Linked DNA regions of Homo sapiens. The protein of the gene in region 1 purifies or fractionates together with the protein of each later gene. This does not show direct contact. Each region holds a gene or a part of one and is shown in the gene's direction. Other genes may lie near its edges. The genes, in order: G2E3 and SPECC1L.

Region 1 (15,924 bases):
CAAATATGACCTATTAGAGCTAGTTTATTAGCTCTTTCTATAAACATGGATTAACTCAAATCACTACCAAGGTGGAAAGTAGACAGCAGGTCACTAAGGAATGTATCATATGTTCTGAAGGGCAGAGAAAAGGAATATGAGGCTAAGATCCACCTGGGAGGAGAGTTCCTTTGTGCCTTTCAGTGGCTCACAAGCCTAAGGATACTGGGCATGGAATGCCAGATGCCATTGAAAGGAGAAGGAAGGGGATGTTAACTGTATGTCTTACCCATTTGCCTAATTATAATTACCATTAAATGTCCTCTCACTTAGAGCTCACAAGAAACCTGTCAGGTAGTTATTATTTACATCTGATTAATGTGTAGTGAAGCTCAAAGGATTGGGTACTTCATACTTAGCTAGTAAGTAAAACGGCTAGTATTTAAACCTCAGCCTGTTTTGCTTTCAGGTTCGCCTCTTAACATTGCACTACTTACTATCCTTGAAAAATGTTTCCTAAAGAATGGCCCTAAGTGTTGAAGCTAAACTTTGAGCAAGTGCCTGCTTCCTAAGTGATGATTCTGTGCCCTAGACCTTTGTGAGAATTTGAAGTTTTCTTTCACCCCCAACAAAACACTCAGGTAAGGATTGGGCTTATTATAACTGAGTCACTTTATCAATTCAGTTGCGGAGTCATTTTCCGCAAGTATTCTGGGAGGGATTAAAAAATCAAAGTACACAAACTGAAAACAGTTTTGATTGCCAGCAATTGTATCCAAGAATGTTAAAGATTCAGTTCAAGCATGTTGTTCATTACTTGATTTATTCTGGGTGGCATTACCAATGTGTGTTCCTGCATTTGGAGTTACTCTTAACTGTAAAGAGGCTCTGATTTCTATGTAAACACTTCAGGCCAAAAGACAGCAATTTTAAAAAGCAATCCAGACAATCATTTGTTTGAAACACCAACTTAGAGAGGAGTAATGTTAACATAAACATACCACATCTTTGACCTATATTAAAACACATGTCTCATATTGGCTACAAGCAAACTTTGAGTCCTTTGTAAAATCCATACAGTTACCCAGCAGGCATGATGTCAATCCAAATCACTGTGGTTACTGTATAGCTACTTATTATCCAAACAACCCTGAAACAAAAGACCTGAAATTCGCTGTTTTGGATGCTGCTTCCTGCTGCCAGGAGGAGGTGTGTTTAACTTACAAGAGACTGAACAGCAGTTAGATGAACACTTTAGATCAAAAGATCCAAGTAAATAGACAATGAAGAAAAGACTTCTGTTTGATAGCAGACAACATACTTTCCCAAAAATGTATCTTAATTCAAGTTCAAAAATTGATATAAAAAGACTGGTCACGCAAATGAATGTAAGAAACATATTAGTAAACACATGAATGAAACTGTGCTCCAAAGAGTTAAAGAAACCAATAACTAACAGACATTCTTGAATTTGAAGGTTAGTCAATAATAAAAGGAAACAACTTGCCGAAAAGCTGAAACTCCCTCTACTTGAGGGATTTTAAAAAACTGGATGAAACAATGAACTGAACTGTTGGAAACAATGTGGCCAACTGGAGTTTGCGCAGAGCAAATTTGTTGATGTCACAGCCTGAATTTCTACCACATTTCATATTAAGTCCCCCTAAATTTGCACCTGTGACCCATGAGGAGGCACAAAGGGATAACTGGGCGTGCCTGAGGACTTTCCAGACCTCCCCTTTTCTTCCACCAATCACCTACTAGTCTCAGAATCACCCCCTAAACCTTTTCTAATAAAAGTAAAGCCAACACAGAGAGACGGCTTTGAGCTGGACTCCTGTCTTCTTGTGAGTTGACATATAACAAAAAGCTTTTCTTTTCCCAACAGCCCAGAGTCATTGTATATTGGCTTTTAGTGCATCAGGCATCAAGCCCTTTCTGCTTGAGAAAATGAATACAACTCCATTCAGAAACATATTAGCACTGCTGACAGCATAGCAGAAGCTTGGCAAATTATTATTAATCATGGAGTCATACACTAATAATGGTCATGTACTTATTTCGTATGATATTATCATTATGTCTTCAACACAAGAGATGATCAACAATATGGGCTATGGCTGGGGGCAGTGGTTCACACCCGTAATCTCAGCACTTTTGAAGGCTGAGGCAGGAGGATCACTTGAACCCAGGAGTTCAAGACCAGCCTGGGCAAAATAGCGAGATTCCCCCATCTCTACAAAAATTAAAAAAAAAAAAAATTAGCTGGGCATAGCAGTGCGTGCCTGTGGCCCCAGCTACTTGAAAAGCTGAAATGAGAGGATCACTTGAGCCCAGGTGGTTGAGACTGCAGTGAGCCATGATCATATCCCTGCACTTGCAACCTGAGTGACAGAACATGATCCTGTCTCAACAATTAATAGTAATAATAATGATAATATAGGCTAATTTATTTTGGAATCATGGGATGAAAATTTTGTAGCATTAATGCCATAATTAGAAATACTAAGTATATTCCAAAGTATTCAAATATTGCTGAGAATCATAGAGGAAGCCTAAGTAACAGATAAGGACAGTGAGCACAGAGAGGGGAAGAAGAAAAAAAGACCATTAAAGGAGGAAGTAAAAAACAAACCTGAGGTAAATACGGGAGCAGTAACAAGATCATGAGTACAGTAGGAATGATTAAGATATAAAGTCACCTGGAGAGAAGAGAATTACCTCTATTTCATGCTTTTACATTCTTGTTAGAGGTTAGTGAAGTAGAAGTTTGGGAATAGAGTCCTACAGTGGCCTGTATTCTGAGTAGCTGATTGTGACATATTTTATGTGAGCCACATAAAATGCAGGTGTGAGCCACTGCACCCGGCCTCAAAGTACACTTCTTATAGTATGACTCTATTAGGGCTCTGAGTCACAGAAAACTTAATTAAAAACTTTCATTCTAAGATCTCAGGGATGGTCTCTAATCAAGGCAACAGATAAGTGAGGGGTTATCAGATACCAGGCAGAATATTAATCGGTATTGCTGAGGAGACAGGCTAGAGAGAAAGCTAGAAATTTATCCTCAAGGTGGAAGATAAAAGAAAAGTGAACAGACATTCAGGGATGGATCTGCCTTAAGTATGAGTCAAGTATTTGCTTCAAATGTGGGTAGTGGCTGAGGGTAAAACAAAAATCTGATTCATCTGAAAGGCAGGAAGGGTTACCAGAAGTTCAATATGGCTAACACAGAGGAGGAATGAGTTCCTGTAAAGGACAATTTAGTCCAAAAGTGTATACTAATTCTAGTGGGCGCTAATTTAAGAATGAGTGCCAGGTTTATCAGCTTTACAGTATAAGATAGCATTGTTATTTCTCTAATTAAAGAATACCATACCTTCTTATTTGCATGTCTTTGGGGGTTCAATAGCCCTAACTCTGGAGGCAATGGTTTAGGGGGCAAAGCAACACAACTTTGGATGGCCTCCTAACAGGATGGATGTACCCTAACTCATTCAATTATCTTCCTCTTTATAGTTGTTTCCAGTTAGCAGCCACTGTAAGTAGTGCTTCAAAAAGCACTAGCATGCTTATTTCTATAGGAGAATCCCAAAGTTGAGAAAAGCCTGAGTTACTTTCCAAGAGCTGTAGCAATGTATGCTCCTGTGGATAAGAGTGTACATTTGGCCGGGCGCAGTGGCTCACGCCTGTAATCCTAGCACTTTGGGAGGCCGAGGCGGGCAGATTACGAGGTCAGGAGTTCAAGACCAGCCTGACCAACATGGGGAAACCTCCATCTCTACTAGAAAAATACAAAAATTAGCCTGGCATGGTGGCACATGCCTGTAATCCCAGCTACTCAGGAGGCTGAGGCAGGAGAATTGCTTAAATCTGGGAGGTGGAGGTTGCAGTGATACGCCACTGCACTCCAGCTATATGGAAGATATAAAGTTAGGCCTGTACCTTTTATCATATACCAAATGCAAGCTCCAAGATCGCGCCACTGCACTCCAGCCTGGGTGACAGAGCAAGACTCTGTCTCAAAAAAAAAAAAAAAAAAAGAGTGTACATTTTACCACCACACTCTCCCAGTGTGGGATATTGTGAATTGTTTTAATTTTTGCTAATCCAATAAACTTGGTATTTGGTTGGTTGATTTGTATTCCCAAAAGTGAGGTAGTACAGTTGAGTATTTTCTGTGTCTTGTCCTCTTTCATTTCCTTTTCAATGAATTACTTGTTCATTTCTTCTGCCCATTTTTATTGCTTTTTGAAAAAAATTATAAAAGTTTTTACATTAGAATTGTTAACCTAGTGTCCTATGTTTTATAAATATTTTATCATTGTCCCTCATTTATCTTTCAATGTGTCATGGTGACTTTTGCTGTTCAAATATTTTAAACTTTAACATAATGAAACATACTCATCTTTTATTTTATGGTTTCTAGGATTCCGGTCTTGCTCTGTCACCCAGGCTGGAGTGCAGTGGTGCAACAGCTCACTGCAACCTCCAACTCTTGGGCTCAAGGGATCCTCCCACCTCAGCCTCCTGAGTAGCTGGGACTACAGGTGCACACCACCACACCCAGCTAAATTTTTTAAAAAATTGTTTTTCGTAGAGCCAGCAGTCTCACTATGTTGCCCAGGCTGGTCTCAAACTCCTGGCTTGAAGTGCTCTTCCCGCCTTGGCTTTCTCAAAGTGCGAGGATTACAGGCAAGAGCTACTGCACCTGGCCCTGCCTTGTTTGAGAAGTCTCTTCTACCCTAAAGTCACAGTTACCGTTCTAAACTTCTCCCCAATATACTTTTGTTTTATTTTTTAAAATTTCAATCTTTAATGTTTCTAGAATTTATTTTGGTATATGATAAAAGGTACAGGCCTAACTTTATATCTTCCATATAGCTGGCCAGTTATTTCCAGTTCTTGTTAATTTATGAATGAACCCATCCTTTTCCTGAAAAGGAAATATCACCTTTATAATATATTAATATTCTCTATATAGTTTCATTTTTCTGGATTCTCTTTTTCTTTTTTGTGCTAATACTATATTTTTTGTCTGATTTTTTTTTTTGGCTACTCTTTGTAGCAGCTTTGTGGTAAGTTTTTACTCTCTAGTAAGACAAATTGTCTACTCCTGACCTCTGTTTTCTTTTTCTAATATGTCTTAACAATTCTTACATATTAATTTTCCTATATGAACATTGAAATCACTTATGTTCTCAAATTATATTTTAAAGTAGCAGGTTCTATATCTTTCTTTAAAGAAAATTTCTTTAAAACTGTATTTAAAATTTAAAAATTATTTTAAATTAAATTGAATTCTAATTTGATTTTGTGAATTTTCTTTAAAATTTATTTCTACGCATTTTATCATTTCTGTTACTCATGTTGGTTGTGGTAAAAACCTTTTAGAGTAGATTATAGGAATTCTTCTGCCAAAGCAGTTTATGTTGTTTCTTCCATGTAAAATTGATGACCCTTGGTCCCAGGAGTGTTTTTGTTTTGTTTTCTGCTGTATGTGGATTGAATAGGAAGAGGAAAGCAGGAAAGAGAGGTTACATTAGCTATGACTAAAATTTTCTAAGAATTCAGTTCTCAGCTAGTTCACATTACTGAGGGATTATCAGAGACTGAATAAAATTCTTAATTTTATTCTTCATTTTTTGCAGCATGTATTAAGTGGAATACTTATATCAATTTCACTCAATTTAAAATGTTTATAAGCTCTCAGAATGCCTGGTCTGATGGCCAGGTTTGTTAGATTTAAGTACGTCCTGCAATGAATATTTTCTTTCAAAAGTCCTTAAATTGTGGCCGGGCGCGGTGGCTCACGCCTGTAATCCCAGCACTTTGGGAGGCTGAGGCAGGAGAATGGCATAAACTCAGGAGGCGGAGCTTGCAGTGAGCAGAGATCACGCCACTGCATTCCAGCCTGGGCGACAGAGAGAGACTCCGTCTCAAAGAAGTCCTTAAGTTGTATGTACTCAGGCTCTTTGATTTAGTCAGTGGGTATTTATTGAAGATCTTTTTTGTTCACAAAATGCTGTAACATTACTTGAATATTGTTTGTATTCAAAATCACCTATACTCACTCTGGGTGAAAAAAAAAGAACAACATTTTAATTAGTACAGATAACCAGATAGTCCATTCAGTGAACACCAACCCTAGACAATTAATACAATTAAGCCTGGCTAATCTTATGGAAAAAAATGTGAATGACTTTACAGGGCTCTCCACCACTGATGAGAACTGAATCTCATTATTCCAAGTGATGGCCAGGCTGCGGGGTGATAATGACTTTGACAACATTTTAGCGGAAGAAATTGAAGAATTAATTAAGGGTTGTAGAGAAGAACTGACCAAGGAGAACTCAGGGGACAAACTGAAAAAAAAAAAAAAAAACACAAAACCTTGCTCATAGAGTTGTATAAAGAAAATCATATATATATATATAATCTTTTGGGTGGCTTTTCCAGGGCATTTTTAACTTTTGTATACAGGTCAACTTGAGAATTTAATTCCTGTGAAGGATAAGAATGGTGGGAAGGTGCCAAGAATTATGAAAGACATAGGAAAATATATAACATAGTTTCTGCCTTCAAGAAACTTCAAGGAGCAATATATTTAACGGGGTCATATTAGATATGTAAACATAAAATAATACACTATATCATGAATGACAAAATGTGTGGTCAAATCATTATATGTAATTGTAGAAAGAACTGTTGAATGAATGAATGGACATAGACTATCCAAACATTAGAAATTTATACGCTCATTAAACCTGATTTTGTATCTAGAATGTATTCAATTTCTAGCAATCTTCCTTAAAGAACAAAATTGCAAAATTAAAAAAAAAGTTTATTATCTTAAAAATTCAACTGGTGATAAAGTGAAAGGTAAAAGTTCTCCATCTCTTCCTACTCTTATTTACCAGCCCGCTCCCAGAGATGTTTACAGCTTAGGTATCCATCCCAAAACTTTGTATACCATATACACACACATACTTTCAAACAAGGATACTACAGTCCTTCTTAAACTTTTTCAGTATTTCATTTCAGTACCCGCTGATCTACTTCATTACTTTTAGTGCCCGCAGCGTCAGTATATCAGATGCTAAAGTATCATAACTTACATGTATTTAACCCCTTCCTTATTTGTAGACACAGATTATTTTCTATCTTCCACTGTTAAAAACAGTACATCAGTTAATAGCTTTACACACCCCCTGTGTCAGATTACCTGTAGCATAGGTTCTCAGAAATCTAGTAAACCTTTCAAACTGTATTTTTTTTTTTTTTTTTTTTTTTTTTTTGAGACAGAGCCTCGCTCTGTCGCCCAGGCTGGAGTGCAGTGGCGCAATTTCTGCTCACTGCAAGCTCCGTCTCCCGGGTTCACACCATTCTCCTGCCTCAGCCTCCCGAGTAGCTGGGACTACAGGCGCCTGCCATCACGCCCAGCTAATTTTTTGTACATTTAGTAGAGACGGGGTTTCACCATGTTAGCCAGGATGGTCTCGATCTCCTGACCTCGTGATCCACCCGCCTCGGCCTACCAAAGTGCTGGGATTACAGGCGTGAGCCACCGCGCCCGGCCCTCAAACTGTATTTTTGACAAAGGCTAAAGGTATGCTGTCATGGTTTGGTTTGTACTGATCCGTTTAGGTAATTCAATGTTATTAGATGTGAGGATGATCTGGTGGCAACATCAATCACAGCCATAAAGGTCAGAGTTATTTAGCGCCCCTCACCCCCTAGCATTTCCAGTCCTTCCTTTAGTTTCTGGAAGCTCCCAGATGTCTCTTCAGAAGCTTAAGACGTTTTGGATCAAAGACATACTGTGGTCCTCGATAAAGGAAAAGATACTGTTGTTTCAATAATCTCACGGGACAATACTTAATAATCTCGTAAAGTGAGCCCTTATCTGAGGGGGGAAATAAAATTTATTGCCTTCTAACACCATCAAATAGTTTATTTGAGACCAGGAATTGGTCCGACCACTTATTTTCAACTTTTGGCTGAATACGGGTGAACTTGGCTTTTTGTTTTCCCTAAACCCAGGACAGAAATAAATTAAAAGCCCTGACTGTGCCGGGATAGGACTGAGAGGCCCAGGAAAGGCTGCACTAAGTACTTGGAGGGTTTGTTTTTTTCCTTCTTGCTGCTGCTGCTGTTTCCTCGAGGATGAAGGGAAAGATAAAACCCTCCTGCCTCCGTTCGTGCTTTCATTCGCCCCATTCCTCGAAGGTGACGAAACTTCAGCACATCTCTGTCCATTTTGGAAAAAAGAGGATCCCCTCAAGAGCAAATAGGCGGAAACAATGACCCCGCGCCCGGAGTTTTTCTGAGCTCCTAAATAGGGAGAGAGACCCGACAAAACAAACAAGCGAAGGCGACACAGCCAGGTTAGCACCGAGCAGCAGCGCAGGAGCGCCAGAAGGGCGGGAGCACACGGGCCCTTCCCCACAGCCAGCGCCTCCGCGGGTCCCACCCCTCGAGGGCGGGGCCGACCGCTCTTTCCGGGTTTGCGAGCGGAAGTGGACGAATTTGAATCCTGTGGGCCGTTGAATGTGGCTGCTCGCGGTCGGCGTGCCCCGACGTACAGCGGGCCGGGAAAAGTGGCACTGAGGCTCTGGAACTTCTGCCCAGCTCTCCTTGGTGAGTAAATGGGGAACGGGAAGACGCAGAACGTTCCAGAGAGAGAAGCAGGACCGTGGGGTGGGAGAGGGTGTCAGGAGGCCGGACGTCGCAGCCGGGGCCTCGCAGTGCTTTTGGGGACGTCTGGTGCTGGGGCCCGGCCTGGAGACTAAGGGAATTCGGGGCACTGGGGGCGTTTGCTGGACCAGCGCTCTCGACGGTTGCGCACGCCAGCCAGCTCTCAGTGTTGAGGATTCGGAGGCCCTGCCGGTCCCCCGCGAGTAAACCTTGTTTATACGCATCCTCCGTGGCTTTTTTTAAACCCGTAGTTTATTATTTCCACCAATTCGGCTCGAATGCTGAAATTTTAACAGTAGTTAAATCTCACTGTGAAGGCGTTGCCACGTTTAAACAAATCTCTTTTAATGAAAGATGGAAGGTTGGGGCGGGTTTAGAATGAAAAGATGCTCTACGTGGCTCCGCGTTCCTCCTGAGAGAGATACCCGGGCAACCTTGATTAACTCTGGACTGCAGGGAAGTGACAGTCTTTGAAATGCCTGAGTGGGATTTAAACTGAAATTCGAGTGTCCTTTGTATTTAAAACCCGGATATTTTTCTTTCACGGTTGACATTTTTCATGTACCGCAAAAATCCGAGACTCCTATTTAAACCGGCTGTGGTAACAGCGGTGGTGATTAACTAGGGTCTTAGTTTGCAAACAATAGGGATAAGGTTTAGTTCCACCGCCCTGCCTTTTCGCCTCCCTCATTCATTGGCCAACTGGGTTATTATGGAGTCTTTTTGGAAGTAATCCACTAATGCTTTGAGCATCTGTTTCTTTGGGTTTTATTGTTTTGGGCTTTTTTTTTTTTAATTTTTAATGATGAACTATCTGAAATATGGAACTCTGTCTAACCCAGTAGTAAAGTCATGCCTTCTGGAATGGTTTAAAAGTGTGCCATAAATGTAAACTATAAATGGGAACTTTAAATGTGTACAAGTTTTACATCTTTATTAAAAATCGTCAGTTTTGTGTAGCTTAATACGAAAAGATATTTTAAGTTCCTTTTAAGGTTTTAACACCAGGATATTGTACCATTTAAATGTATAAATATATTTTTAAAAGTAGGACTTCATAATAATCAGAATAAAAACATTCCTTCATCCAGTGCTGGCTATTCCAGCACCCCCATTCTTCCTGCTATTGAACTTTTAAGTGTTAGCCAGGAAGAATAGACTTAAATACTCGGTGTTTAGGATAGTTAAAATATGAGCATTTTTCATATAGTGTCTTTGTAACAGAGACATTGGCTATACTTCTCTAAGCCTTTCTGCTCATTTCATATGTGCTGTCAACAAATGGTAATTTTTAAAAATTGATCGCTATATCCTAATCTCTTTATTTTTTTCTACCTGAATTATTTTCATTGGATTTTTGCTCTTTCTTAAATCAGTGAGTTTCAGAATTTATTGTGTATACACTACCTTGAAGGATTTGTTCAACAATGCTGATTCCTGCACTTCAGATCTCAGATTCTGAATCAGTAGGTCTGGAGGATGGCATTGAACAGTCTGCATATTTAACTGAAAGGTTAGAAAATACTGTGAGTTTTCAAAACACTGATTTGATCTTTCCTAGAAAGGCATTATAATGTGTTGATTAAAGACATGGAACTGGGGCCAGATTGCCTTGGTTTGAAGCCCATCTCCACCACTTGATAGCTAGGTGACCCTGGGCAAGCTGTTTAACCTCTCTGCTTCATTTCCCTCTACCGTATGATGAGGTTACCTACTTTGTAGGATTATTGTGAGGATTGAATGAGTTAATATATACAAAGACCTTAAAATAGTGTGTGCCACATAGCAAATGATACATAAGTCTCCAATTACATTGAGTTACTAAACTGTAAAAACCGCATCACATACATTCTCTCATTAATCTTTACAATATCGCTGAGGTAGTTACTATCTTCAAATAAGAAAACAGGCTAAGAGGGGCTCGGTAATTTGTTCTCACACAACTAGTAACACGTTGGAACTGAAGTCGGAAATTAGATTTAACTCAAAAGTTTATGCTTTTTTAAAAAAGTAATATTTCTTGCCTCTCTTCAGTCTCCCTCCAGATGTTGCTCCATAAGTATCTCTGATGGCTTCTCATTGTCTACCATATATAATTCAAATTTCTTAGCTTTGCTTTTTATTTACAGAGCCCTTCAGAGTCTGGTACCAACTTCTCTTCCCAAGGACCATCTTCATAATATTACACCAGTCTCTTCCAACCTGCTGATGTTCTATCAATACTACTAGAATTCTCCAAATCTATCTCTTATTACATTTTATGCATATTTAGCCATTGGCCTTTTTATTTCCCCTTAAGATTTTACTCAAATGGGTTTAAAGACTTCTCCAGGCTGTGCTTTTTGCTTATAAATATATAGTGCGAGACTGCCCTTGTCCTTTTAATTTTTATGTCTGCAGTGCACAGTGCAGAACAGTGAGTGTCATGATACTCTGAAACTGTGTATGTTCAGTGAGTACTTATTATTTTAACAATTTAACACATTTTGTCTTGGGTTAATGACTCAAAAAGTTGTTGCTTTTTTTTTTTTAAGGCTTGGCTTTTTTCTGAGATGATAGCATATAATTCTGTGTAGTTTAGTAGAGATTTTAGTGATAGCATATGGTTTATAAACTATGGAAAAATAAGTATTGAAATTATAGGCTCAGAGGACATTTCAAGTGGCAAAAAATCAGGAGCAATGTTTGTTAATATTCATGAATTTAAAATGCTTTATACATATTTTCTCACTTAATCCTCACAACCATTTTATTATCTCTATATTAAGATGAAGAAACTGAGGCACCAAAAGATTTAGTAGCTTTTAAAATGTATTTTTAAAATATTTAATTTCCTCTTGTGTGGGCGGCAAGCCACCCAGGTGCCGAGGCAAGAGACTGGGGGCACGAGCTGTTCCAGTATAATAAAATAATAAAATAAGAATAGTTATACTAGATATAGATCTTAGATATGATTATATATGAATATCATTAATCATTAGTTTGTAGCAATTACTCTTTATTCCAATATTATAATAATCCTCGCTCTACAATCATAACCTAGGAAAAACCAGGCCATACAGAGATAGGAGCTGAGGGGACATAGTGAGAAGTGACCAGAAGACAAGTGTGAGCCTTCTGTTATGCCCGGACAGGGCCACCAGAGGGCTCCTTGTTCTAGCGGTAACACCAGCGTCTGGGAAGACGCCCGTTGCCAAGAGGACCATGGTCTAGCGATAGCGTCAGTGTCAAGGAAAAACACCCGCTACTTAGCAGACCGGGAAAGGGAGTCTCCCTTTCCCCGGGGGAGTTTAGAGAAGACTCTACTCCTCCACCTCTTGTGGAGGGCCTGACACCAGTCAGGCCCACCCGCAGTTACCTGGAGGCCTAACCGTCTCCCTGTGGTGCTGTGCTTCAATGGTCACACTCCTCGTCTGCCTTCATGTTCCATCCTGTACACCTGGCTCTGCCTTTTAGATAGCGGTAGCAAATTAGGGAAAGTACTAAAAGTCTTTGATATGCAGAAATAATGGTGTAAGCTGTCTCTCTCTCTGCCTCGGCTGCCAGGCAGGGAAGGGCCCCCTGTCCAGTGGACACGTGACCCACGTGAACTTACCTATCATTGGAGATGGCTCACTGCCCCTTTGTCTTGTATCCAATAAATATCAGCACAGCCTGGCATTTGGGGCCACTACCAGTCTCCGTGTCTTGGTGATAGTGGTCCCCCGGGCCCAGCTGTCTTTTCTTTTATCTCTTTGTCTTGTGTCTTTATTTCTACAATCTCTCGTCTCCGCACACGGGGAGAAAAACCCACCGATCCTGTGGGGCTGGTCCCTACACTCTTGGTACAGTTTTTTTTTTTTTTAATTATGAGTGGTATGTTAGATGTAATAAAAAGTATCTTAATTCAAAATGTTAGGGAATTAAAAAACAAAACTTTTCTTTTTCCGTTTGATCACTTAAGACAGTTGCCTAATCTTGCCCACAGCTTTTCTTTAAAAACCTGCCCAACAATGTAGGGACATCATTCTCATGACCAGTAGGTAGGGTTGGTCTAAGGGACATAAAGCCCCATACCACTTAAAGTCCCATACCACTTCCCCAACAAAACTGGTACAGGTATTTATATCAGAGCTGCATATCTGATGCAGGCTAGACCATTCATGTGATTTCTTGATTTTGGAGTTGGGATATCACAAGACTATTGGAAGCCAAGCTGGAAAGGTCTTATGTGTTGCTATGACAGTGGAATCATGAAGAAACATGAAAATGGACATATGGAGCCAATGGGTGGTAGGGTGGGGTGGGGTAGGGGAGGATGACATCTGTTTCCTGGGGACTAGTTATATATTGATAACTTAATGTAAACTTGTAACTTTGTTACTTTTGTGTGTGTGTGTGTGTGTGTGTGTGTGTGTGTGTGTGTGTGTGATATAGAGTCTCACTCTGTTGCCCAGGCTGAATGCAATGGTGGGATCTTGACTCACTGCAACCTCCGCCTTCCCGGTTCCAGTGATTCTCCTGCCTCAACCTCCTGAGTAGCTGGATTACAGGCACCTGCCACCACGCCCGGCTAATTTTTGTGATTTTAGTAGAGACAGGGTTTCGCCATGTTGGTCAGGCTTGTCTCAAATTCCTGACCTCAAGGGATCTGCCCGCTTCAGCCTCCCAAAGTCCTGGGATTACAGGCGTGAGCCACCGCGCCCAGCCATTGCTTTTTATCTTAAACTTATCCTTTTGTTTTAAATAAAAATTGTTAACTTTTAAACAAGTATCTGGTATACAATTTGTATGCAATAAAAGTCACCCATTTTAGGGGTATAGTTCAATGAGTTTTAGTAAATGTATTCTCTTGTATGAATATACCACAGTTTGTTTTATCCATATACATTGTTACAGTTTTTAGTTATCACAAATAAAGTTTCTGTTGACCTTTGTGTACAATGGACATATGCCTTATTTCTCTTGGCTGCATCATATGATAGGTGTACATTTGACCTTTTTTTGAGGTAAAATTCCCATTTATAAAATTAGCCATTTTATTTGAGACAAGATCTCTGTCACCCAAAGCTGGAGCTCAGTGGCACAATCATAGTTCACTGCAGCCTCCAACTCTTGGACTCCAGCTGTCCTCCCACCTCAGCTTCCCAGGCAGCTAGGACTACAGGCATTTGCCACCAAGACTGGCTAATTAAAAATTTTTTTTATAGAGACAGGATATCACCATGTTGTCCAGGCTGGTTGCAAACACCTAGCCTCAAGCGATCCTTCCACCTCAGCCTCCCAAAGTGCTGGAATTACAGGTGTGAGCCACCATGCCCAGTCAAAAATTAGCCATTTTAAAGTAGACATTTCAGTGACAGTACATTCACGATGTTGTGCAACCATCACCTCTACCTAGTTCCAAAACATGTAACCTTTTATGTCTGACTTCCCTCATTTAATATAATGTTTTCAAGGTTATCTATGTTGTAGCATGTTTCAGTACTTTATTCCTTTTTATTGCCACATAATCATTCTATGGATATACCACATTTTGTATATCCATTCATCAATTGATGTATAATTAGGTTGTTTCTTTGTAATGTATTGATTTAGTGATCTCTTTTGTGAATAGTGCTGCTGTGAACATATGTATGCAAGTTTTTGTTTGAACTGAAATATTTCAATTGTTTTGGTTACATAGCTAGTGGAATTGCTGGGTGATATGGTAGTCTTGTTTAATGTGTTGTGGAATTGCCAAACTGTTTTCCACCCTTGCATCATTTTACTTTCCCACTAGCAATATGTAAGGGTTCTAATTTCTCCATATCATCATTAACACTTACTATTTTAGTTTGTAAAAATTATTATTATAGCTATTATAGTGGACATGAAGTGGTGTCTCATTGTGGCTTTGATTTACTTATCACTAATATAATGAGCATTTTTTCATGTGCTGTTGGCCATTTGAATATTTTCTTTGGAGAAATGTCTTCAGATATTTTGTTCATTTTTAAGTTGGATTACTTGTCTTTTTGTTGTTGCATTGTAAGAGTTTCTAATGTATTCTAGATACTAGACCCTTTTCAGGTTATATGATTTCTGAATATTTTTTCCCATTCTGTAGATTGTCATTAGATGCACAAGTTTTATACTTTGGTAAAGTTCAATTTATTTTTTTCTTGTTGCTTGTGCTTTTGGTGTCATATCTCAGAAACCATTGCCAAATACAAGGTCATGAAAATTTACCCCTAGATTTTCATTTAAGAGATTTATAGTTCTGTCTTTTACATTTAGGTCTTGATCCATTTCGAGTTGATTTTTTTTAATGCGTGTGAGGTAGGGGTTCAACTTCATTCCTTTTTTTTTTTTTTTTTTTTTTTTTTTTTGAGATGGAGTCTCGCTTTGTTGCCCAGGCTGGAGTGCAGTGGCACAATCTCGGCTCACTGCAAGCTCCACTTCCTGGGTTCATGCCATTCTCCTGCCTCAGCCTCCCAAGTAGCTGGGACTATAGGCACCCACCACCACACCCGGCTAATTTTTTTGTATTTTTAGTAGAGACTGGGTTTCACCATGTTATCCAGGATGGTCTTGATCTCCTGACCTCATGATCTGTCGCCTCGGCCTCCCAAAGTGCTGGATTACAGACGTGAGCCACCACACCTGGCCAACTTCATTCTTATTTACATGGCTGTCTGGTCGTCCCAGGACCATTTGTCGAAGAGACTGTTTTCTTCCCATTTAATGGTCTTGGCACCCTTATTGAAAATTAGTTTACTATAAAACGTGAGTTTATTTATTGACTCTTTCTTCTTTTCTATTGATGTGTATGTCTGTCCTTGTGCCAGTACCACATTGTCTTGATTACAGTGGATTTGTAGTAAGTTTGGAATTGGAAAATTTGAATCCTCCAACTTTTTCTTTTTGGGGATCCTTTTGACTATTCAGGATCCCTTGCAGTTTAGGCTTAGCTTTTCCATTCCTGCAAAAAAAGGCCATCGGGATTTTGACAGGAATTGTATCAAATCCATAAATTGCTTTGGGGAGTATAACCATCTTAATGAAATAGTTTTTCAACCTATGGATGCAAAATGTCTTTTCATTTATTTACAGTTCTTTAATTTCTTTCAGCACTGTTTTGTAGTTTTCAGTGCAAAAATCTTGCACCACCATGGTTAAATTTATTACTAAGTAATTTTTATGCTATTGTAAATGGAATTGTTTACTTAATTTCCTTTTTGGATTGTTCATTGTTATATAGAAATACAACTGATATTTGTGTGTTGA
Region 2 (15,519 bases), on another chromosome or scaffold:
AAGACCAGCCTGACCAACATGGTGAAATCCTGTCTCTACTAAAAATACAAAAAGCGCGCGCCTGTAATCCCAGCTACTCAGGAGGGTGAGGCAGGAGAATCGCTTGAACCCGGGAGGCGGAGGTTGCAGTGAGCCGAGTTCGCGCCACTGTACCCCAGCCTGGGCTACAGAGCGAGGCTCCGTCTCAAAAAAACAAAAACCAGATATAACAAGGCCGAGCTCCCTGGCTCACGCCTGTAATCACAGTAGTTTGGGAGGCCGAGGCGGGTGGATCACCTGAGGTTAGGAGTTCGATACCAGCCTGGCCAACATGGTGAAACCCCGTCTCTACAAAAAATATAAAAATTAGTCGGGCGTGGTGGCACACGCTTGTGATCCCAGCGGCTCGGGAGGCCGAGACAGGAGAATTGCTTAGGAGGCAGAGGGTGCAGTGAACCGAGGTCTCGCCACTGCACTCCAGCCTGGGCGACAGAGTGAGACTCTGTCTCAAAAAAAAAAAAAAACAGCTATTACAATATACATGTATGTTGTAAAATAACCAAACCAACATAGAAGGGTATATAGTGAAAGGAGAAGTATTGTTGTGGGTAAAATTGTTTCAATAAATGGCTAATCCAGTATTTTTTTCCTCCAAAAAAACACCTTTTCCCCTTTGATTTAGTGTATACCACACAGAGTCGCTTAGCCGATTCAGTGACTTTTTTGATAGCTGGAGAATGCTTCCTAATGGTTGCAGGTGTGTAGGGGTTTTCTTGACATTTTCAGTAAGAAAGTGAATGTTGTGCCATAGGAAAGCTTTATCACAGGTGCACGTTGGTAGCCAACTAAATAACGTGAGTGTCAAGTACAGTATCTAGTGAGTGGAGAATAACTGTAATAATTACAATTACAGTTGTAGTTAAAGTGAAGTTTGTATCAAAATTTCTGTTTCAAAGGTGAACTTTTAGGAGGTGTATCTGCGGTGTTTCTTCCTCAGATGTGATTTCTCTGAAGCAGTGGTTCTCTATAACTGACTTGACACACAGTGCATCTGATATTTCGAATGACTTAAGTGATAGTATCAAAATTACTATCATATACATATTTAAATCACATGACTAACCTGTGTGTGGTATTATGCAAACTGCTCAGCTCAGTAAGGGAACAGAAATAAGAAAAAAAGGACAATATTGGGAGTCTTTTATACAATTCAATTTATTCAATTGAAGGACTATCTTTTCTTTAAAAAAGTTCTGCTTTCTTGGTGTTAAAATAAAGCATCTTTTATGAAATGATGGTGATAGTAAATGGTGATATATGGTAAACGTAAATAGTAAATGCAAGGGTAGTTATTGTGATTTTTAAAAATAAAGAGAGCCGAGAATCTCTTGTTTTCCTGCTGCTGTTAGGGAGTTCAGGAAAAAGTTCCTGGGGCTTTTGCTGTTAAGAAGATTCAAATATAGAGTATTTCTTAAGAGTAAATATGAGTTTATTTTGAGATCATTGGTCACAGTCTACTGAGAAATCCACTGAGAAAGCTGTTAAATTTGCATGGCATTAAAGATGTTCCTATTCTGATCATTGTTAAATAGATCTTTTTTATTAGATATAATTGTTTTTGAGACAGTTTCGCTCTTGTTGCCCAGGCTGGAGTCTAATGGCATGATCTCCGCTCACCGCAACCTACGCCTCCCAGGTTCAAGCGATTCTCCTGCCTCAGCCTCCCAAGTAGGTGGGATTACAGGCATGTGCCACCACCCCTGGCTGATTTTGTATTTTTAGTAGAGACAGGGTTTTTCCATGTTGGTCAGGCTGGTCTGGAACTCCCGACCTCAGGTGATCCGCCTGCCTTGGCCTCCCAAAGTGCTGAGATTACAGGCACTAGCCACCTCACCCAGCCCCAGGAGATTTTTTTGTGTTGTGCCAACAAATAAGCCTAGGCAGGGAAATTCTTTCTGGTGGTTGGAATTGTTAGTACTGAATAGACTAGATGCGAGGTAAAGAACCCCCATGGGGTTTTCTGTCAGCTCAGAAATCATTGTGACCTCAGTCTTTTACTGTGAAATAACATGACCATTAGGAAAGTAGCCTTAAACAACGTATTTTGGGTATGTTGAGAGGGAGGGACAATTATGATCTGTTCCAAAGTGAACATAACAGATGATCCCTGTGTCTGTGAAGCCTTTAAAATTTATAGTGCTCTTCTATTAATTTCAAGTAAGATTTAGAGTTATTGTGACATACTCTTAAAAAACCTGCAGTGTATCAAAAGGCACGTTTTTAAAGCATCTTGAAATGAAATTAATAATGTAATATCTACTTCTTCAGAATAGTAGTTTTTACATTCTGAAGACTGACTGACTGCTCTCAGCCACTTCTGAGTTCTCTATTTTCAAAGAATAATTTGGTATTCCATAAAGGAAATCTGTAAATAAGAGAAGAGAGTGAATATCTTTTAACAGTGTTTTTCCTGATCTTTTCCAAACATCTTCATTGTGGTTCTGTCCTTTATTTTTTGGTTAAATCCAGAGGTTTACTTCTGCCTGTATCTTTCCAAACTATTAATCTGTTCACAATCACTTTCCCATTTAAACCCTTCAGCAGCCCCAGTACCTTCGTAATAAGGTCTCCTTAGCTTGGTATCCAGAACACTTCAATACTGGGCTTTGACCCCTGTTCTCCTTCCCCTACCTCTGTTTAGGTGCTTCACTGAGCTGCACTGAACAGCTCTTGGCCCCTTGAAATCTCTGCAGTCTCCTTGTCTCCCTCTGCTGGAATATTCTTCTCTCACTTCATCTGATCATTGCCTTCAAAACTCAGCTCATTTTCTTATTTCCTTGCCCTTTTCATGTCCCTTGTTTTCCTCCGATTAAATTAATGTTCCAAACTCAAAAGAAAAACAACTCAGCTCAGGCATCACCTTGCCTGGAAGGCTTCCCTAGTCCTCCTGCCTCCTGCAGACTTGTCTGGCACCCTGTGCATTTGGGATTTGGCACACTATGTCTCGTCTGCGGCCTCCACTGGACAATGAGACCGTAAGTGTGTGGCTTGACAGAAAGTTGTTGACTCTGCTGGGGTGCTGGTACAGTGCTGGGCACGGCAGTGTTACAGAGGAAGTGAGCCACTTAGTTTCTGCCCTTAGGAGCTTTTATTCTAGTTGCACTTGACCCTGACAGCTGTGAGACACCTCCCAGTAGTGCGTACCAACTTTTCAAAGTCTGTTTAATTGTACCTTAGTGTCTGATTCCAATTTTATTTCTTGAAGGAGGGGAGTGTCTCTAATGTCTTATTTTGGCACCCAGAGACCAGGTAGGCATCATTTTTATCCCAAATTGTGGAAGGAATGTACATTTGACACAGATCACTTCCCTTTTTTCTCTTGTACACCTTTCACCTTTTTTTTTTTTTTTTGAGTTTGATGTGTTTGGACAGTAAGGGTTTAAGAGATTAAGATTAAATTTCAACTTTGTCTATTGTGCATATAGCCTAAGGAAAACAAAAAGTTAAAGAGGAAAAATACATTGCCTCTAAAAAGAAGACTCATTATTCAACTTTTTTTATTTTTAGTTGTTTTCAGAGACTGAGTCTCACCCTATCACCCAGGCTGGAGAGGTGATCACAGCTCACCGTAGCCTTGAACTCCTGGGTTCAAGGGTTCCTCTTGCCTTAGTCTTCTCACTAGCTGAGACTGCAGGCCCGCACCAGCACACCTGGCTAATTTTACAAAAATTGTTTTTGAGAGACGTGGTCTTGCCATCTTGCCTAGGCTGGTGTGGAACTCCTGGGTTCAAGCAAACCTCCCGCCTTGGCCACCCTAAGTGTTGGGATTACAGGTGTGACCCATTGTGCCCAGCCTAAACTTTTTTTTTTCAATGCTGAGCTGTACACAGAAGAAAGTAAAGGTCTTGGTCAAGCCTAGGAAAGAAGTATGCAAAGAAACTGGTGGCAGGCTGGATGTGGGCATATTTCAGGGCTTTGGAAGGTGAAGAGGAGAGGACTGCTTGAGGCCGAGAGTTCGAGACCAGCCTGGGCGACATAACGGGACCCTGTCTGTACAGATAAACATTTTATAATTAGCCAGGTGTATGTACCCTAGAACTTAAAGTATAATAAAAAAAAATAAAATTCGCCAGGTGTGGTGGTGCGCACCTGTGGTCTCAGGTACTTGAGAGGCTGAGGCAGGGGGATCTCCTGAGTCCAGGTGTTTGAGGCTGCAGTGAGCTAGGGATCACACCACTGTTCTCCAGCCTGGGCTACGAAGCGAGACTCTGTCTCTAAAGAAAAACATACTGGTGGCATTGTCAAGATTTGTCAAGAAATAGCCATTATGCTGGACCCAGTGGTGCGCACCTGTAGTGCCAGCTTTTCAGGAGGCTGAAGTGGGAGAATCTCTTGAGCCTAGGAGTTTGAGTTCAGCTTGGGCAGCATTGCAAGAGCCCAGTCTCAAAAATATTAGGTCAATAAGGTTTATTTTAATTAAACAAGAAAAAGAAATATCTGCTAAAATTTAAAGCTATTCTATTCTTCCTCTCTCTCTTCTAGTGTTCTTGGGGAAGATCCCGACTAAGCCATTTTCCAGTGGCACCTCTTCCATCATGAGTTCCTGAGGCAGTCCGATGGGGCTACTTTATTCCAGAACAATCACAGTGAGACCTTTTCTCCCAATAAATGCCCCTTTTCTCTCCTTAATATATTCTCTTGCTTACAAAACACTGGTGTCTCCTTATCATGGTTTGGTTCTACCCCACTGGGCCCAAGAATTCTTGCCCAGGAGCAACTGAATTTTCTTCTTGCTTGCTTTTTAAAACTTTGGTGGGGTAGAGCCAATTTTAAATCTTCTGATCCATTTTTTCATTGTTTTTCTCGCCCTTCTGCATTTTCTGCAAATTCTGTTGAATCATTGCAGTTACTTAGGTTTGCTTCGTCTCCCCCATTACAAACTACTTACTGGGTTTTTCAACCCTAGTTCCCTCATTTTTATGATTTATGCTCATTTCTTTGTACACTTCGTCTTGCTCCATCTCCCAACTCATGGCCCCTGGCTTTGGATTATTGTTTTGGTCTTTTATTTTTTGTCTTCTTCTACCTCAACACTTATCTTCCTCTCCCAGTCTCCGGTACCCTATCACCAAGGTTGTCATTAACCTTTCATATTATTCCTCATTATCCATGTATTCATTTGCAAATAAGCGTATATTAACAAAATCACAGGTTTATGGAGATATAATTCACATACCTTAAAATTCAGGCTTTTAAAGTGTACCTTTCATGTGGTTTTTGGTATATTCACAAAGTTATGCATTGATCACCACCATCTGATTCCATAACATGTTCAATACCTCAAAAAGAAGTCTGTACTCATTAGTAGTCATTTCACATTCACCACTCCCTCTGGCTCTGGGCAGTCACTGATCTTTGTGTCTCTATGGATTTGCCTAGTCTAGGTATTTTTATGTAAATGGCATCATACAACATGTGACCTTTTGTTTGGCTTTTTTCATTTAGCAAAATGTTATCAAGGTCTGTCCCTGTTGTAGCATGTATTAGCACTTCATTTCTTATATGCTGAATGATATACTTTATTTGTCCATCAGTTGTTCATGCTTTATTTGTCCATCAGTTGATGAACATTTGCGTTTTTGCCACTTTGGGCTATTAAGAATAATGCTACTGTGAACAAGTGTGTACAAGTTCCTCTACAAATTTTTGTGTGGACATATCCTTTCAGTTCTCTCAGGTGTATATCTGGGAATTGAATTGCTGGGTCGTGTAGTAGCTATGTTAAACACTTTGAGAAACTGCTATAATGTTCTCCAGAGCTGTACCATTTTAAATTCTGTGTATGAGGATTCCACGTTCTCCACTTCCTCACCAGTGTATGGATTTGGGGGTATACTTTTTAAAAAGTGGGATTAGGCTGGGCACAGTGGCTCACACCTGTAATCCCAACACTTCAGGAAGCTGAGGTGGGAGGATCACTTGAGCCTAGTAGTTTGAGACCAGCCTGGGCAACATAGGGAGACCCTGTCTCTACAAAAAATAATTTAAAATAAATTAGCTGGGCGTTGTGGCACACACCTGTAGTCCCAGCTACATGGGAGGCTGAGGTGGAAGGATTCCCTGAGCCCAGAAGTTTGAGGTTGCAGTGAGCCATGATGGCAGCACTATACTGTAGCCTGGGTGTCAGAGCAAGACTCCGTTTCAGGGAAGAAAAAAAAAAGTGGGATGATATTTTTGACACTTTTCTTCTTGTTTTCTTAATTTCATACTTCTGGAAATTCCATTAAATTAGCTGGTACCACTCTAACTCATTGTGTTTCATGGCTGCATAGTAATATTGCATAATATAAATATACCATTCATTCATCAAAGTTAGCAGATATTGACTGTTAGGTGCCAGGCACTGCTCTAAGCGTTAAAGAAAAACACACAAAAACTTTTGCATTCTTAGAGTTTATTTTCCAATGGAGGGGGTGGAGGGAGGTAAGAATTTAGGAAATAAATTAATTACATATATAGCATAGGGTTTCACCAGTGAGTGCAGCTTGAATCGTTGGCAGCTTTCTTAGTAGTATAAATACAGTACTAAAGATGAAATTACTCTAAATGGTGTTACTTAAATTACTGGAATAGGTATTACTATTAGTCACTTTGCAGGTGAAAGTGGAAACACCATCGTAAAATGTAAAATAGGAAACAGCTGGTTAATGTGGATCTGGAGTTTTTCTAGGACATAAACTGATGAGCCAGAAAAGTAAATGTGTCAGTCCTTGGTAGCACAGTTTGTACGTTTATAAATTTTATCCAAATCCTCTTAATCTAGTGATTAATAGACACTCTTCACAAAAGGATGAGGGAGGTATATGTATATGTGTTGAAAGGTTCCGAAGGATGCAACCGAGAGTACTTCGGGGGACGTGGCAAAACTTCCAGGCCCATTCAAGAGTCTTGTTTTCTCCCTGAGCTTTTATGTATTTATTATATTGCCCTATTAATTATTGAGATTGTGCCTTACAGTAAAAGCTGCTTTAAATTGTTGACGCTATAATTTAAAATAATCTGGGTCACCTAGAGTGGTTAAACCTGGAAGAAAAGGATATCCTTCCTGCCAGGGCAGATTGTATGTAGATATGCAACCTGGTTGCGCCTGTGCTGACCTCTACTCTGTTGGGCCTGGAAGTATGCAGTTCAACGTTTCTCTTCTGATTTTTAAAAAAAATTTGACTTTGTTTACTTTTTATTTTATTTTAATTTAGAGACAAGGTTTCACTATTTTGCACAGGCTGGTCTCAAATTCCTGGGCTCAAGTGATCCCCTTGCCTCGGCCTCCCAAATACTGGGATTACAGGCATGAGCCACTGCACCTGGCCTTAACTTTGAAATGAAGTTAGAAATGTACATTTTATTTTTTTAATTATTATTATTATTATTTATTATTTTAGAAACAGGTCTAGCTCTGTTGCCCAGGTTGTAGGGCAACAATGGTGCAATCACAGCTCACTGCAGCCTCCACCTCCTGGGCTCAAGTGATTTTCATGCCTCAGCCTTCCGAGTAGCTGGGATTACAGGCATGTGCCACCATGCCCGGCTAATTTTTTGTATTTTTAGTAGAGACCAGGTTTCACCATGTTGCTCAGGCTGGTCTTCTGACCTCAAGTGATCTGCCCGCCTCAGCCTCCCAAAGTGCTGGGATTATAGGCGTGAGACACCACGCCCAGGTGAACAGAATAGTTTTCCATTCACCACAGTTTGTGACAGTCTCTACATTGTGAAGTGACAAGTTCTCTTCTATTTTCCTTCTGCCCCTCATCACCTTTTTCTTCCTCATTTCTTTTTTGAATTTTGCTGTCTTGAATTGATGTCTAAAGGATGACATAGCAGACAAGGGGACTGACACATGAACTCTCATGAGTTACTGAGGAGTTTCTCAGTGCTCTGTCTGCATCATCTGCTCACTCTCTCCTTCCTAGGTGCTAGCCTGCCAACCTGCTTTGAGAAATTGGAAATGAATTGGGGGGTAATCAGCCTCCCCTTGTACATGTAGGGACCGCATCTCCAATGCCTTGCTTTACATAATGACGAATGGTGTTTTGCTTACCTACTTCCACACAAACTGCTGATATGGTTAGGATTTGGGAAAGGGGAAGAAGGGAATTTTGGGTTTTGAGGAGTAGCTGGGGCTTGAACAAAGAAGAGGTAGTAATGAACATTCCTGGGGTGAGGCAATTAGTTAGCTGAGGGAGAAGAAGGCATATAATAAATTAGGGATTGACAGACTGTCTGTAAAGGGCCAGACAGTAAATGTTTTAGTCATTGAAGACCTTAAGGTCTCTGTTGCATCTAATCAACTCCATCATTGTAGTGCAAAAGTAACCACAGCCACTACAGATGTGAATGAATGTGACTATGTTTCAATAACATTTTTTTTTTTTTTTTTTTTGAGACAGTGTCACTCTGTTGCTCAGGCTGGAGGGCAGCAGTATGACCACAGCTTATTACAGCCCTGACTTCCCAGGCTCAAGTGATCCTCCCACCTCAGCCTTCCAGGTAGCTGGGACTATAGGCATTTGCCACCGCCCCCCATTAGTTTTTGTATTTTTTTGTAGAGGCGGCGTTTCACCATGTTGGCCAGGCTGGTCTTGAACTCCTGAACTTCTGGGCTCACGCTCTCCACCCTACTCGGCCACCGAAAGTGTTGGGATTACAGGCATGAGCCAGTGTCCAGCCCAAAATAGTCTTTTGATTTTTTTTCCCCCAACCATTTAAAAATGCAAAACATTCTTAGTTTTTGGGCTGAAAAAAGACAAGTGATGGGTCAGATTTGGCCCCGGATTGTGGTTTGTTTACCCCTGTTACAGAGGAACAGGAAGCAGAGAGGACTGGTTATAGGGCCTGGGAAGCCAAGCCAGGGAGTTAGACTTAAGGTAGTATGTAAGAGGAAACCATTTTTGTAATGTAATGAAAATTTTAAAGGAAGGATGTTTTGTATTTATATGTGTTCCTGGAAGCATCTGAGTTTTTATTCAAAACATGTTTTCACTATGGAAAATTTCAAACATTTACAAAGTAGAGAGAAAAATGTAGTGAAATACCAAGTGATGTATTTATCACCTACCTTCAACAATTATCAGTCCTAGGTCCTTTGCATTTCTGTGTTTTAGAATCAACTTGTCACATTCTACAAAAAAGCTCCTGGAATTTCTGTTGGGATTGTTTTGATTCTGTAGATAATTTCAGGGGAAGAATTGACTTCTTAATAAAATTGAATCTCCTAACCCATGACCATGGTATACTTCTCAATTTATTTAGTTTTTCTTTAATTTTTCTCAACAATATTTTGTAGTTTTCAGTGTACAAATCTTTCCAGTTTTTTGAAGGGATGTGGTCAGATTTACTTCTATTTCATATATTTTGATACTGTGAATTTCAACTTCCCATTATTCATTGCTAATATATAAAAATAATACTTGGTTTTTGTGTATTAATCTTGTATCCTGAGACCTTAATGTAATTCGTTTTCAAAGCTTTTTGATGGATTCCATTGGCTATTCTGTCAATGTTGTCTGTGAATAAAGACAGTTGTACTTTTTTCTTCCCACTCTGAATGCCTTTTATTTGTTTTTCCTTCCTTTACTGCACTGGCTAGAACTTCTAAGTACATAATGAATAGAAGTGTAACTGCCCAATGGGTTCACCTTGCCCATTGCCTAGACAGAGCGGAATCATCAAGACGGGAATTGTAATAGAGAAAGAGTAATTCAGGCAGAGCCTGCTGGGTGGGAGACTGGAGTTTTATGATTACTCAAATCAGTCTCCCTGAGCATTTGAGGAGCAGAGTTTTTAAGGACAGCTTGGTAGGTGGGGGGAAGCCGATGGGCCAGGAGTGCTGATTGGTCAGGGGTGAAATCAAAAGGAGTTGAAACTTTCTTCTTGAGCTGAGTCCGTTCCTGGGTGGGGGCCACAAGATCAGATGAGCCAGTTAATCGATCTGGATGGTGCCAGCTGATCCATCAAGTGCAGGGTCTGCAAAATTTCTCAAGCACTGATCTCAAGAGCAGTTTAGGGAGGGTCAGAATCTTTAGCCTTCAGCTGCGTGACTCCTAAACCATAATTTCTAATCTTGTGTCTAATGTGAGTCCTACGAAGGCAGTCTGGTGCCCAGGCAAGAAGGAGGTCTGCTTTGGGAAAGGGCTGTTACCATCTTTGTTTTAAACTATAAACTATAAGTTTCTCCCGAAGTTAGTTCAGTCTACACCCAGGAATGAGCAAGGACAACTGGGAGGTTAGAAGCAAGATGGAGTCAGTTAAGTTAGATCTCTCACTGTCTCAGTCATAATTTTGTAAAGGCAGTTTCAATCGTGGTAAAAGTGGATTTCCTTGTCTCATTTTTGATCCTATGGGGAAAATATTCAGTCTTACGTCATTCAGTATGATATTAGCTACAGGTATTTCATATATGCTGTTTGTCAGGTTTAGTAGGTTATCCTCTGTGTGGAGTTTTGTATTTTTTTAATAAGGAATGAATGTTGGGTTTTGTTTAGTGTTTTTCTGTGTGTATTGAGAAGATCATACAGCTTTTCTGTTTTAGTTTACAATGTGGTGAGTTACATTGAGTTTTGAATTTTTTTTTTTTTTTTTAAGACGGGGTCGCACCCTGTCACCCAGGCTGGAGTGCAGTGGCATAATCCCAGCTTACTGCAACCTCTGCCTCCTGGGTGCAAGCAATTCTCCTGCCGTAGCCTCCCAAATAGCTGTGATTACAGGTGTGCACCACCATGCCTGGCTAATTTTTGTATTATTAGTAGAGGCGGGGTTTCACCATGTTGGCCAGGCTGGTCTCGAACTCTTGACCTCAGGTGATCCACCCACCTCATCCTCCCAAAGTGCTGGGATTACAGGCGTGAGTCACTGTGCCTGGCCGATAACTTTGTTTTTTTTTGAGATGGGGTCTTGTACTGCTGCCCAGGCTGGAGTGCAGTAGTTCTACCTCGGCTCACTGCAAGCTCCTCTTCCTGGGTTCACACCATTCTCCTGCGTCAGCCTCAGGAGTAGCTGGGACTACTGGCGCTGGCCACCATGCCCGGCTAATTTTTTGTCTTTTTAGTAGATATGGGGTTTCACCGTGTTAGCCAGGATGGTCTCGATCTCCTGACCTGGTGATCCGCCCACCTCGGCCTCCCAAAGTGCTGGGATTACAGGCGTGAGCCACCGCGCCCAGCCTGCCTTGCCGATTTTTGAATGTTAAACTAACCTTGCATTTGTGGGATAAACCCTACTTGGTTATGATATATTATCCTTTTTTTCTAGATTGTTAGACTCAATTTGCTAAAATTTTGTTTGTAATTTTTACATTTATTTTCACGAGAGATATGGGTCTGTAGGTTTCTTTTTTTGTAATGTCTTTGTCAGATTTTGGTATCAAAGTAATGCTGGCTTCATAGAATGAGTTGAGAAATATTCTTCTCAGTTTTCTGGAAGAGTTTGTAAAGAATTTGTTTTATTTCTTCTTTAGTGGAATTCCTGAGTGAATGCATCTACGCCTGGGGTTTTCTTTGTAGGAAAGTTTTTAACTACAAATCCAATTTCTTCAATAACTATAGAGCTATTCAAGTTATTTATCACTGTTTGAGCTTCGATAGTTTGTCTTTCAAGAAATTCATTTATTTTATGATAGTTTGTCTTTCAAGAAATTCATTTATTTTATCTAGGTTCTTGAATTTACTGGCATAAAGTGGTTTCTAACAGTCTCTTATTTTCCTCTGATAGCTGTAGAATCTGTAGTGTTGTTACCCTTTCCATTCTTAATGCTGGTAATTTGTGTCCTCTCTTTTTTATGAGTGTGGCTAGAGGTTTATCAGTTTTCTTGATCCTCTCAACCCATTTTTTGTTTCATTGATCTCTGTTTTACGTTTTCTATTTCATTGATTTTTGCTTAGATGTTTATTCTTTTCTTCTCCATACTTTGTGTTTCATTGCTCTTCTTTTTCATGTTTCTTAAAGTAGGAGCTGATTTGAGTCTTTTCTTCTTTTCCAACATAGGTGTTTAGTGTTATAAATTTCCCTTTACTGCTTTAAGTTTTTAAAGGTAATTTAAGGATAGCCCACAAATTTTGATATGTTATGTTTTCATTTTAAGTTCAAAACACATTCTGATTTCCCTTTTGGTTTCTTCTTTAGTTCATAGACGTAGAAGTATGTGAGTTCCCAAGTATTTCAGAATTTTCCAGAGATATTCCATTATTTTGTAATTTAATTAATAGAGAATCTTTTATTTTATTTTATTTTATTTTATTTTGAGACAGAGTCTTGCTCTGTCGCCCAGGCTGGAGTGCAGTGGCGTGATCTCGGCTCACTGCAAGCTCTGCCTCCCGGGTTCATGCCATTCTCCTGCCTCAGCCTCCCGAGTAGCTGGGACTACAGGCACCCACTACCACATCCGGCTAATTTTTTTGTATTTTTAGTAGAGACGGGATTTCACCGCGTTAGCCAGGATGGTCTCGATCTCCTGACCTCGTGTTCTGCCTGCCTTGGCCTCTGAAAGTGCTGGGATTACATGCGTGAACCACAACACCCAGCTGAGAATCTTTAAAATTAAAAACACCACCACAATACTATTATCCCATCTTTAAAAAGCAACAGTTCAGAAAGAAGGAGGACAATTTGAAAGAATACAGAAAGGATCAGAGAGATCGGTGTCAGTCAAGAAAGCCTGATAAAAGGCCAGTGGAGTGACTCATGCAGAGTAGAGGGAGTGGATGAGAAGAGAAAGGGAGAGACACATAGTCACCAGGGACAATCAAAGGAAAAGTAAGTGTAATTTTGTAGTTGATTGAAGAGGAAGATGGAGGAAGGTAAAAGAAAGCTGTGTTGAATTAAACTCTAGAGTGATCAAAGCTGTGGTGGTTAGGATTGGAAGAGGGTGGCACACACTTAGATTGGGTGACAAAGTTTGTAGTTGTCTAGAAGAACCTCTGAAGTTTCTCTGCTTAAGTCGGAGTGGAAGCAGCCCTGGGGATTGTAGTGGAAAGGGAGAGCTATATGTCTACTAGTACTGTGACAAGATAGAAGAAAGTAAGTTTAGGATAAAGGGAAATTTGTCCTTCTGGTTGTAGTGGGAAGGAAAGGAGATGGATGCTTACTGTAATTCTGTGGGCTGAGCATTTTCCTTGTTAGTTTCCACACATCGTTTGATGTGGTTCTTATAGCATCCTATGTGTTAGCTGTTTCTACTTAAAGATGAAAGACCGAAATTTGGAGATGAGTAATATGCCCAGAGCCAGATAACTAATAAGTAGTGGAGTTGTTAGCATTTGAACGCATATTCTACCCAACCAGTCTGAGTTCTTTCCACTTGGTATGTAAATTCATGAATACAAGCCAGCAAATGTCCCAGGCTGCTCCTATTCAAAGAGCTGCCTTCTGTGTATCACGTGGTCTATGTTAAGTGTTATGATCTAAAACAATACTGCTGTTTTTTTTTTTGTTGTTTTGTTTTGTTTTTTTTGAGACGGAGTCTTGCTCTGTCGCCCAGGCTGGAGTGCAGTGTCGCGGTCTCAGCTCACTGCGACCTCCGCTTCCTGGGTTCAAGTGATTCTCCTGCCTCAGCCTTGAGTAGCTGGGATTACAGGCACCCACCACCAAGCCCGGCTAATTTTTGTATTTTTGGTAGAGACGGGGTTTCACTATGTTGGCCAGGCTAATCTTGAACTCCTGACCTCATGATCCGCCCGCCTCAGCCTCCCAAAGTTCTGGGATTACAGGCGTGAGCTACCGCGCCTGGCGCGCTGTTCTTTTTTGAAAAGAAAATCTTGATTTTGTGTTTTGAAGTCCTTAAAAGCGATTGTTTATTTAAGCTAAAATAATCAAGTTACTCATTTATTCAGTAAATCAGATTCGACAGGCAACATTCTCAGAGGCATGTATATGTGTGTAGGGCTTTGGTGATTTTTTGGTGATGTTTGTAACCTAGAATATAGTTTCGAAGGCTTAGATTTAAGACTTCCATCTGATAAAGTGGGGGTAAGCTGCAGTGAAATCTGCATGGTAGTCTATTCTTGACACTTGCTGTTAGTAGTAACCTTTTACTGAAAGTCAAAGTTTGCTTATGTCTTACAGTACTGTTCTGAAAGTTTACTTTTTAAAAATGAGAATGAAATATTGGGAAGAAACATCATAGTTATTTTACATATTCTGTTTTTTTAGTACCTGATTGGTTATGTTATATTGACATTCTCGCATGTAATTACACTTTATTGCTTGAACTTGCAATACATTGCTCCTGAGATAAAGACATAGGTGAAGCTTATCCTAAGTTGGTAACAGCAAAATTATTGTATTAATAATTGAGTCATATGGTGTGTTTCGGCATTTTAACAAGGAAGTATGGACCATGACATTTTGAATTTGAAAGGAAGTACTTTTTACTGCTTTCCTCTTTTTCTGTCTTATATCTTTGTCCTACCACTAAGAAGTGAGTAAAGTTCTAGACTCAGTTATAGGATATCTTAATAACAGGCCGTGAACTGTGTCACTGATTAACTGACCTATCTAGTAAGAGTTAGGATTTACTTCTGACATTCATGTACTTTTTGCAGTAATTCAGGCTATTCACATCATAGCTTTGCTTTTGTCTGTTTTTCAAGTAAGAGGCTGAGGCAGAAGAATCATTTGAACCCTGCAGGCAGAGGTTACAGTGAGCTGAGATCGCGCCACTGCACTCCAGCCTGGGCTACAAAGCGAGACCCTGTCTCCAAAAAAATGAAAATTAAAAATAAGTAAATGTGAATTTCAGATAAATAGTGATGACTTTTTTGGTCTAAGTATACCCTAAATGTTGTCTGGATAAAAGACACTTAGGTGAGTGCTGTGGCCAGAAAGGTAAGAGGGATGGGGGGCCAACCAACTAGAGACAAGGGAAGGTATCACTAAGGACACGGCAGTGGAGCTGAGTCCTGAAGTGATGCACGAGCAGTTATTTCTCAGGGAGGAAAGTGGTAAGGGGTTTTCAGGGGTAGGAACAGTAGGAGCCAAAGTGTGGGTATGTGAGAGTGTGTGACTATGTGTGCACGTAAAATGGAAATGAGATGGAGGGATGGGTTGGAGCCTGGATTTGAAGAAGCAGGTATCGGCGCTGGGGTATTTGGCCTGGGACAGTGAGGCATTATTTTACAGGAGAGTGGCCTGGTGGGATGTGTGCTTTAGAGTGTGGACACACAGCTGTGGCACAGAAGGATTGCTGGCAGGGGAGGGCGACAGGAGGCTGCCAGAGTTGTCCAGCTGGACTTCTTCCCTGACACAGACAGGCTGGCATAGGATTGGTGTGGTAGTGGGGATGGGAAGGAGGGAATGCCGCGAGGTCAGGAACTTCTTCCAGTCGCCAAGAGGCGTCTTGACCGTTTAAAAATGTCTCTGAAGATTTAGCACACCAAGGCCCCCTATAGTCCCAGGGTATAGGCCACCCTTGAGATTAGAAAGAAACCCCTGGGAGCTGTGGTGGGGTGGATGTGGCTGTTGGAGGTGCCCCTATTCAGACTCCTGCTC

What was found.
Region 2: the proteins of G2E3 (region 1) and SPECC1L purify together in Homo sapiens (affinity purification with mass spectrometry; 2 studies listed by BioGRID and IntAct, with this or other methods). This does not show direct contact.

What each region holds. Positions count from the first base shown.
Region 1 is NC_000014.9:30,550,654-30,566,577, forward strand, and holds the start of G2E3 (G2/M phase-specific E3 ubiquitin-protein ligase), read left to right. Parts: upstream 1-8,504; 5' UTR 8,505-8,619; intron 8,620-10,083; exon of another isoform or gene 10,084-10,182; intron 10,183-15,924. UniProt on the Homo sapiens protein: E3 ubiquitin-protein ligase which accepts ubiquitin from an E2 ubiquitin-conjugating enzyme in the form of a thioester and then directly transfers the ubiquitin to targeted substrates. Essential in early embryonic development to prevent apoptotic death.
Region 2 is NC_000022.11:24,272,179-24,287,697, forward strand, and holds part of SPECC1L (cytospin-A), read left to right. Parts: intron 1-4,521; 5' UTR 4,522-4,625; intron 4,626-15,519. UniProt on the Homo sapiens protein: Involved in cytokinesis and spindle organization. May play a role in actin cytoskeleton organization and microtubule stabilization and hence required for proper cell adhesion and migration.